Regions from separate parts of the Homo sapiens genome. Here region 1 is linked to region 2. Evidence: fine-mapped expression QTL. A gene starts in region 2. The other region holds a variant in brackets. All regions are shown on one strand. Distances are from middle to middle. Region 1 overlaps KEAP1 (kelch like ECH associated protein 1). Region 2 holds the start of ICAM4 (intercellular adhesion molecule 4 (Landsteiner-Wiener blood group)).

Region 1 (4,382 bases), 210 kb before region 2:
GAGTTTAAGACCAACGGCCGGACACGGTGGCTCATGCCTGTAATCCCAGCACTTTGGAAGGCAAGGGGGTGGGCCACTTGAGGTCAGGAGTTCCAGACCAACCTGGCCAACATGGTGAAACCCCGTCTCTACCATAAAAATATGAAAATTAGCTGTGCGTGGTGGCACACACCTGTAGTCCCAGCGACTCAGGAGGCTGAGGTGGGAAGATCGTTTGAGCCCAGGAGTTCAAGGCTACAGTGAGCTATGATTGTGCCACTGCACTACAGCCTAGGTGACAGAGCAAAACTGTGTCTCAAAAGCAAAAACAGGCCAGGTCCGGTGGCTCACGCCTGTAATCCTAGCACTTAGGGAGGCTGAGATGGGCAGATCACCTAAGGTCAAGAGTTCAAGACTGGCCAGGCGAGGTGGCTCACGCTTGTAATCCCAGCACTTTGGGAGGCCGAGGCGGGCGGATCACGAGGTCAGGAGATCAAGATCATCCTGGCTAACACAGTCACCCCGTCTCTACTAAAAATACAAAAAATATTAGCCAGGCACGGTGGTGGGCCCCTGTAGTCCCAGCTACTCGGGAGGCTGAGGCAGGAGAATGGCGTGAACCCGGGAGGTGGAGCTTGCAGTGAGCCGAGATAGCGCCACTGCAGTCCGGCCTGGGCAAAAGAGCGAGACTCCATCTCAAAAAAAAAAAAAAAAAAAAAAGAGTTTGAGACCAGCCTGGCCAACATGAAGAAATGCCATCTCTACTAAAAATACATAGTGAAACTCCGTCTCTACTAAAAATAAATACAAAAAAATGGCCGGGCGCGGTGGCTCACGCCTGTAATCCCAGCACTTTGGGAGGCTAAGGCGGGTGGATCACAAGGTCAGGAGATCGAGACCATCCTGGCTAACACGGTGAAACCCCATCTCTACTAAAAAAATACAAAAAAACTTAGCTGGGCGTGGTCGCGGGCGCCTGTAGTCCCAGCTAATCGGGAGGCTGAGGCAGGAGAATGGCGTGAACCCAGGAGGCGGAGGTTGCAGCAAGCGGAGATCGCTCCACTGCACTCCAGCCTGGGCGACAGAGCAAGACTGTCTCCAAAAAAAAAAAAAAAATTAGCTGCTCTGGAGGCACACTCCTGTAATCCTAGCTACTTGGGAGGCTGAGGCAGGAGAATCACTTGAACCTGGGTGGCGGAGGTTGCAGTGAAGCAAGATCACACCACTGCACTCCAGCTTGGGCAACAGAGTAAGAATCCATATCAAAATAAAATAAAATAAAATAAAAATTAACGGGGCATGGTGGTAGGTGCCTGTAATGTCAGCTACTTGAGAGGCTGAGGCAGGAGAATTGCTTGAACCTGGGAGGCAGAGGTTGCAGTGAGCCTAGATCATGCCACTGCACTCCAGCCTGGGTGACAGAGTGAGACTCTGTCTCAAAAACCAAAGCCAAATGATACCCCAGGGTACACGATCTACTGAGTCTTTGCCCATTTTCCTGAGTCCTGATGACATACTTGGCACATAGTATTAACTCTTTTTTTTTTTTCTTTGAGACAGAGTCTTGCTCTGTCGCCCAGGCTGGAGTGCAGTGGCGCAATATCGGCTCACTGCAACCTCCGCCTCCCGCCTCCCGGGTTCAAGCGATTCTTCTGCTTCAGCCTCCCGAGTAGCTGGGACTAGAGGCGTGTGCCACCACACCCGGGTAATTTTTGTATTTTTAGTAGAGATGGGGTTTCACCATATTGGCCAGGCTTGTCTCTCAACTCCTGACCTCGTGATCCGCCAGCCTCGGCCTCCCAAAGTGCTGGCATTACAGGCGTGAGCCACCGCGCCCGGCAGGATTAACTCATTTAGTCATCACAATGTACGCGGTTCCTATTATTTGAATCCCCATTTAGCAGATAAGGAAGCTGAGACTGTCAGCGGCAGTGATAAGTTACTTGTCCCGGTCCTGCTTGGTGAGGTGTGGGGGTGACTGGAGAGTCAGCCCGTCCCACTGTCGCCCTCTGCAGGTGGCCAAGCAAGAGGAGTTCTTCAACCTGTCCCACTGCCAACTGGTGACCCTCATCAGCCGGGACGACCTGAACGTGCGCTGCGAGTCCGAGGTCTTCCACGCCTGCATCAACTGGGTCAAGTACGACTGCGAACAGCGACGGTTCTACGTCCAGGCGCTGCTGCGGGCCGTGCGCTGCCACTCGTTGACGCCGAACTTCCTGCAGATGCAGCTGCAGAAGTGCGAGATCCTGCAGTCCGACTCCCGCTGCAAGGACTACCTGGTCAAGATCTTCGAGGAGCTCACCCTGCACAAGCCCACGCAGGTGATGCCCTGCCGGGCGCCCAAGGTGGGCCGCCTGATCTACACCGCGGGCGGCTACTTCCGACAGTCGCTCAGCTACCTGGAGGCTTACAACCCCAGTGACGGCACCTGGCTCCGGTTGGCGGACCTGCAGGTGCCGCGGAGCGGCCTGGCCGGCTGCGTGGTGGGCGGGCTGTTGTACGCCGTGGGCGGCAGGAACAACTCGCCCGACGGCAACACCGACTCCAGCGCCCTGGACTGTTACAACCCCATGACCAATCAGTGGTCGCCCTGCGCCCCCATGAGCGTGCCCCGTAACCGCATCGGGGTGGGGGTCATCGATGGCCACATCTATGCCGTCGGCGGCTCCCACGGCTGCATCCACCACAACAGTGTGGAGAGGTGAGTGGCAGGGCCTGGGGGTGGGCTCGGAGGGTCCTGCTCCTGGCAAGTCCCAAGACACTGAGATCCGGG[T/G]ATTCTTCCTGAGGCTGTTTCCTCTTCCTGTCTTCAGGGAGTGGAGGCCTCAGGATGAAGCTAAGCTCCTTGGAGAGTTCTAGTCAGTGACCTTTGATTCTGTGCCTGGGGCTGGGAAATGCTTAGGGGACTGTCACAAACCCATATGGTTCCTTTGTGCGGAGTTGGAAAATGTTCCATCAGTTTGAAATTGTTGGGCTAGGCACTGTGGCCCATACCTATAATCAGGGACTTTGGGAGGCTGAGGTGGGAGGATTGCTTGAGTCCAGGAGACTAGCCTGGGCAATAGAGTAAGACCCTGTCTCTCTTGCTCTGTTGCCCAGGCTGGAGTGCATCTTGGGTCACTGCAACCTCGCCTCCCAGGTTCAAGTGATTCTCCTGCCTCAGACCCTGGGGTAGCTGGGACTACAAGTACCCACCACCACGCCTGGTTAATTTTTGTATTTTTTGTAGAGATGGGGTTTCACCATGTTGGCCAGGCTGGTCTTGAACTCCTGTCCTCAAGGGATTCTCCCACCTCAACCTCCCAAAGTGCTGCGATTACAGGTGTGAGCCACTGTGCCGGACCTAAAGGACTCTTTGAGCATCAAAGAGTGATGCTGAATGTGTGATTTCTCCTTTCTGAGATGTTATCTTGTTATCTGTGAAGTGGGGGATCTGGCTGAGCCACTAGGGGTTTATCAGATGTGTTTTTGAACTTGAGCAATTGATGGCTAGGAGGCTCAGTTTTGTCATTTGGAAAATGGAGTTGCTGATACCTCAATCCTTGGAGAACAACTGCAAGCACTAGAGTTCGAGTGGAGGTGGGCACGGTGGTGTGCACCTGTAGTCCCAGCTACTCAGGAGGCTGAGCCAGGAGGGTTCCTTGAGCCCAAGAGTTGATAGCTGCAGGCTGGGTGTGGTGGCTCATGCCTATAATCCCAGCCCTTTGGAAAGCTGAGGCAGGCAGATCACTTGAGGTCAGGTGTTTGAGACCAGCCTGGCCAACATGGCGAAACCCAATTTCTACTAAAAATACAAAAATTAGCCGGGCGTGGTGGTGGGTGCCTGTTATCCCAGCTACTTGTGAGGCTGAGGCTGAATAACTGCTTGAACCCAGGAGGTGGAGGTTGCAGTGAGCCATGCTCTCACCATTGCACTCCATCTCAAAAAAAAAAAAAAAAAAAAAGTTTGAAGCTTCAGTGATTGCACCACTGCACTCCAGCCTGGACAACGGAGCAAGACCCTGTCTCTTTTTTTCTTTTTTTTTTTTTGAGATGGAGTCTCGCTCTGTTGCCCAGGTTGGAGTGCAGTGGCATGATCTCAGCTCGCTGCAACCTCCGCCTCCCAGGTTCAAGTGATTATCTCGCCTCAGCCTCCCGAGTAGCTGGGATTACAGGCATCTGCCATCACACCCAGCTAATTTTTGTACTTTTAGTAGAGACAGGTTTTTACCATGTTGGCCAGGCTGGTCTCAAACTCCTGAGCTCAGGTGATCCGCCCTCCTCGGCCTCCCAAAGTGCTGGGATTACAGGCATGAGCCATCGCGCCGGATGAACCTGTCTCTTTAAGGGGGAAAAAAAAAAGGAAAAAAAAGAGTATCTGGCCCTTAAGTATTCCACGAAGGTCAGCTATAATGGCCATTGTCCCC
Region 2 (4,382 bases):
AGTTCCTCCGAAGAAGGGCAGTAATGCGGACCCTTAGGTCACAGGACAGAGGCTGGTTAAGGAAGCCTTTATTGATTCCAGAGGGTTCCCCCGCCAATATTTATTTTTATTTTTATTTTATTTTTGGAGACAGGGTCGTGCTCTGTCCCCCAGGCTGGAGTGCAGTGGCACGATCAAGGCTCACTGCAACCTCGACTTTCAGGGCTCAAAGGATCCTCCCAACTCAGCCTCCCGGGTAGCTGGGACCACAGGTGCGGGCCACCACACCAGGCTAATTTGTGTATTTTTTGCATAGACGGGGTCTCACTATGTTGTCCAGGCTGGTCTCGAACTCCTGGGCTCAAGCGATTCTCCTGCCTCGGCCTCCCAAAGTGCTGGGATTACAGGCGTCAGCCACCATGTATGGCCATTTCCCCAGATTGTTTCATATTCCTCTTTTTCTCGCTCAGCCGGCATAGAACATCCCCCTTTACGCCTGGGACTTCATAGCTAGGCACTTGCATAGGTACGCAGCGCCCACAGTGAGGAGGATCCCTACAAGGGCAGCGATGGAACCGGAGGCCAAAGCTGTGGGCGCGGGGCTCCAAGCTGGGAGCAGAAGGCGAGAATTAGGAACGGAACACAGGGAGGTCTGTCGACCCGCGTGGAGCTCACGCTTGGTCTGTGCGCCCTCTCGGGGTCATAACTCTCTCTGCCCCCTTCCTCCTAGTCCCCAGGGTTACAGGGGTGCCTCACCGAGCATCAGTGTAATGGGTGCCGAGCTGTTGCGGACCACCAGGCCGTCGAGATTGAGGCGCGCGTGGCAGATCACGGGCTGCCAGAAGTCGCGGGGTCCAGCAGCAAACTCGTAGGTCAAGGTCACGTTGGCCAGATCCAGGCCGGTGAAGCGCTCCAGGCTTTCGGAATAGATGACCCGGCTTCCATGCCTCAGGGTCACCACCAAGTAGCCCACCGGGAACACCTGCGTCACGTGGCAGCGCAAAGTGTATTTCCTGCCCTTTAAGACCGGAGGCTCCAAAATCACGCTGTGGGGCGGTTCTAAGGCAAGGGGGAGCCTCTGAGTGAGGTCCGCGGGCGCTCCCTATAGAGCGACTGTCAACTACCCTTCCCCCACCTCTTCCAGCCCCCTCCCCTCACCCCAGCCGGGACCGAGCCCCTGTCCCTCACTGTAGGCGGTGATCCTGGAGGTGGCCCAGCGTGTTTTTCCTGCGCAGGTCACGAGGCAGTGCGCGAGGGAGCTCCAGGCCCTCACGTCGAGCAGCTGGTAAGACACCCAACCCGGCCCTCTGAGCGTCTTGCCTTGCCGCAGCGGGGTGCGGAGGCTGGAATTCTGCGGCTGGGGACAGCTGTTGCTGCAATTGAGCTGCACTGACTTCCCCGGCTGCACAGCCACGAACTCCGGGCTCATGCGCACCCAGAAGGGCACTGAGGTCCCGGAGGGCGCGAGAGGGCTACCCTTGGGGCTTTGCGCCCGCTTAGTCCGGCGTCCCAGCGCGCTCCCAACTCCCGGGTAGGCGGCCGCCAAAAAAAACAGCAGCGACAGAGGGAACAGAGACCCCATGGCAAAAAGCCCGGACTAAGGGGCCCCGCGCCAGAGAGCCAGGGCCGGCTCTAGAGATAAGGAGGCCCGCAGCCCCGCCTCCTCGACTCCACCCTGGAGAGGAAGGGGAGGCCCCAACAGAGGGCCCGGGAGTACTGCAAAAAGGGATTCCGCTCCCCAGGTCAAGAATAAGATTCCAGGCCTCATTAGAAACCAAATGTTTTTTTCTGGAGAGGAGTCTTTAGTTTTCACTAGAGACCCAGAAGGTCATAGAAAGTCCGATTTGGACCAGAACCTCAGGGTATGGCCATCAACCCACAATGTTTTCTTGGGGGAGGAAGTGGGAGGATCAGGCTGTGGCTGCTTAGAAAGGACTCCAGCTGGATGTGACACCTCCCCTCAACTCACACAAGGCTGAGGCAGTTGAGAAAGCTTTATTAACTAACACAAAGGAAGTCTGGGCAATGTTGCGAGACCCCGTCTCTGGAAAAAAAAAAAAAATCAAATTTGCCAGGTGTGGTGTTGTGAGCCTATGGTCCCAGCTACTCAGGAGGCTGAGGTGGGAGGATCACTTGAGCCCAAAAGGTCAAGACTGCAGTGAACCATGATTGCACCACTGCACTCCAGCCTGGGTGACAGAGCGAGAGCTTGTCTACACATACACACACACACACACGCGGATGAGGCTTCCAAAGCTGGGAGGGAGTCCTCCAATACCTTGGCCCCCTTCCCCACTGCTTGCAGGACCCTGATCACTGCAGGAAACTGGAGCTGCATAGTGCAAGCTCCCAGTGAAATGCAAACAGGACAAGAGGACAAGGCATAGCTTGGGCATATTCCCTGGGCACTCATGTCCAGACATGACCGCTGAGTGTCATTGTGAACACTGGCAGAAATGTATGTGGGTGGGGAGGTGGCTAACAAAGGTGTCAGTTTTGGGGGGAAGGGAGGAATAAGGCCTCACTGGGTAATCTCTGAACCTGTAACCATTACCAGTCCATATAGTGCTTTTGTGCCGATAGAAAAATCACTCCTTCTGGGGAAAGGCAGGTTGGCCAATGAGAAGTCCCAGCCCCATTTGATCTTTTTGCCAGGCACTCTCCTGCAGTGTACAACCTGTACAACTGTACCTGGTGACCTTGAATGTGATTAGGACTGGGAGCTCCGTGAGGCCAGAGACCTATGTTCATTTAGCCTACATAAAAGACACTCAATAAATAGCTGGTAAAATAACAAATGAATAAATACATATCATCAAGGGTTGGGGTCAGTAGACAGCAGTGCCCAAGCTGGCATCCGTCAGGAAGTGTGGGCCTTTGTGTTTTGATGCTACACATGTCTATGGAGGGCCACTTCTTCTGTAAGTCTGTGGGGCCTCAGCATACCCAATAGGCAGCAAGTTTCAGTATTTCCCAGTTGTATGTCCTCATGGTGGGGCTATGTCTCCCCCACCACTTCCCCTCTCATCAGGCTAGACTTTAACATCCATCAATCATGTCTTGAGTCTTGCTCCTTCCTCTTGGCTTAGTCATGTGACTACAGATCAGATGCGTGGCCTAGTGTTTTAGGTGTGCAGGTACCATGGCCCCAAATGCTGTTGTATCTGACTGAGGACAATGCCCTGTCCTCCGGCGTCCCAGGGCCGGTAGGTGTAGCTGCATGGCATATGTCTTCCACTCTGTTCAGTGTGGCACCACTGCCACCAATATGGGAAGGCCGAGGAAGAGGCCCTGTCCCGGGATAGGTTCAGGGAGGCGTGGCTTGTGTGTTCGGTTTCATGGGGGTCCCTTTTTGGGCCTGTTGTAGTCTGTATTTCTTGATCTTCCGCTGGCGGTTATAGAGGTACGTGCTGAGGCCTGCAGTGCCCATTATGACTGCGGCTGCTACCACAGTGATGATGACAATCTCATACCGGGGGGCTGTGGGGAGGATACAACAGGCGGTGAGGATTGCATTAGGTCCATGGCCCCTGCCCCCACCCAGCTCTGCCCGCCGGCTCACTCACAGAGCACATTCACGGTCACCTTGCGGGTGACCTCCCCTTGAGTGCTCCTGGCCCGACAGAGGTAGGTGCCCTCAAGATCTCGAGTGACAGTCACTGATTCCCCGATGGGCAGTGGGAAAGTGCCATCCTTTAGACACTTGAGCTCGGGCAATGGGTTCCCCCAAGCCTGGCACATTGGAGTCTGCTGGGAATTTTCTGGCCACGTCCAGTTTCCCGGACAATCCCTCTCGTCCAGTCGGGGGCCATCTGGAAAAACACGATGAGATGACATGGAGGTGGGTGGGGGCAGGACTTGGAGGCAAGACCTTATGGGACCTTCAGGGAGATTGGGCCTTGGGGGATAGGGGCCATTGACCAGCAGCCCCACTCACACAGGACACGAAGCTCCCGGGTCTGGTTCTTGTGTATAAGCTGGCCGGCCACCTCCAGGGTTGCAGAGCAGGAGAAGCTGCGCCCGTTGTCCTCTGGGGTGGCCTTCAGCAGGAGCTGGGCCCTCGGGCCCAGTGGCTGGGCTGGAACCCCATTCAGCGTCACCTTGGCTCTAGGGTGGGCCTCACACTTCACTGTCACCTCGGTCCCTTCTGAGACCTCTGGCTTCGTCAGAATCACGTTGGGCGCCGGAAAGCCTGGAATAGGCACACAGTGAGCCCCGCCCCGGGTTCAGGTCACACCCCCAAGAAGCCCCACTCCGCCCCTGCCCCTTCTTACTGTAGATGGTCACTGTCTGCAGTGTCTCCTGGCTCTGGTTCCCCAGTATTACTGCACACGTCAGCCGCTGGGTGCCCTCGTCCTCTGCGGTCACACTGACTGAGGCCTTGGCCGAGAAGGAGTCGTTGC

What was found. PIP is the estimated chance that this variant, and not a neighbour inherited with it, causes the effect.
Region 1: its variant is the best candidate, but not a certain one, in a credible set for the expression of ICAM4 in monocytes (Fairfax 2014, PIP 0.51).

Annotation. Positions count from the first base shown.
Region 1 is chr19:10,489,875-10,494,256 of GRCh38, reverse strand. It overlaps KEAP1 (kelch like ECH associated protein 1), which reads left to right. Exons shown (of 6, transcript NM_203500.2): 3 at 1,995-2,680. Among named protein-coding and RNA genes, the nearest start is that of KEAP1, 11 kb to the left of the region's middle. RefSeq lists an enhancer at 1,838-2,338. The variant T/G (reference allele first, on the strand shown) is at 2,753.
Region 2 is chr19:10,284,192-10,288,573 of GRCh38, reverse strand. ICAM4 (intercellular adhesion molecule 4 (Landsteiner-Wiener blood group)) reads right to left here and starts at 1,619. Exons shown (of 3, transcript NM_001544.5): 1 at 1,168-1,619; 2 at 736-1,038; 3 at 54-588. The coding sequence starts at 1,561. The coding sequence ends at 470. ICAM1 (intercellular adhesion molecule 1) reads right to left here. Exons shown (of 7, transcript NM_000201.3): 4 at 4,254-4,382; 5 at 3,917-4,171; 6 at 3,546-3,791; 7 at 1,959-3,459. The coding sequence ends at 3,287. ICAM4-AS1 (ICAM4 antisense RNA 1) reads left to right here. Exons shown (of 1, transcript NR_186335.1): 1 at 1-2,773. RefSeq lists enhancers at 1,492-1,631, 978-1,947, 2,002-2,051.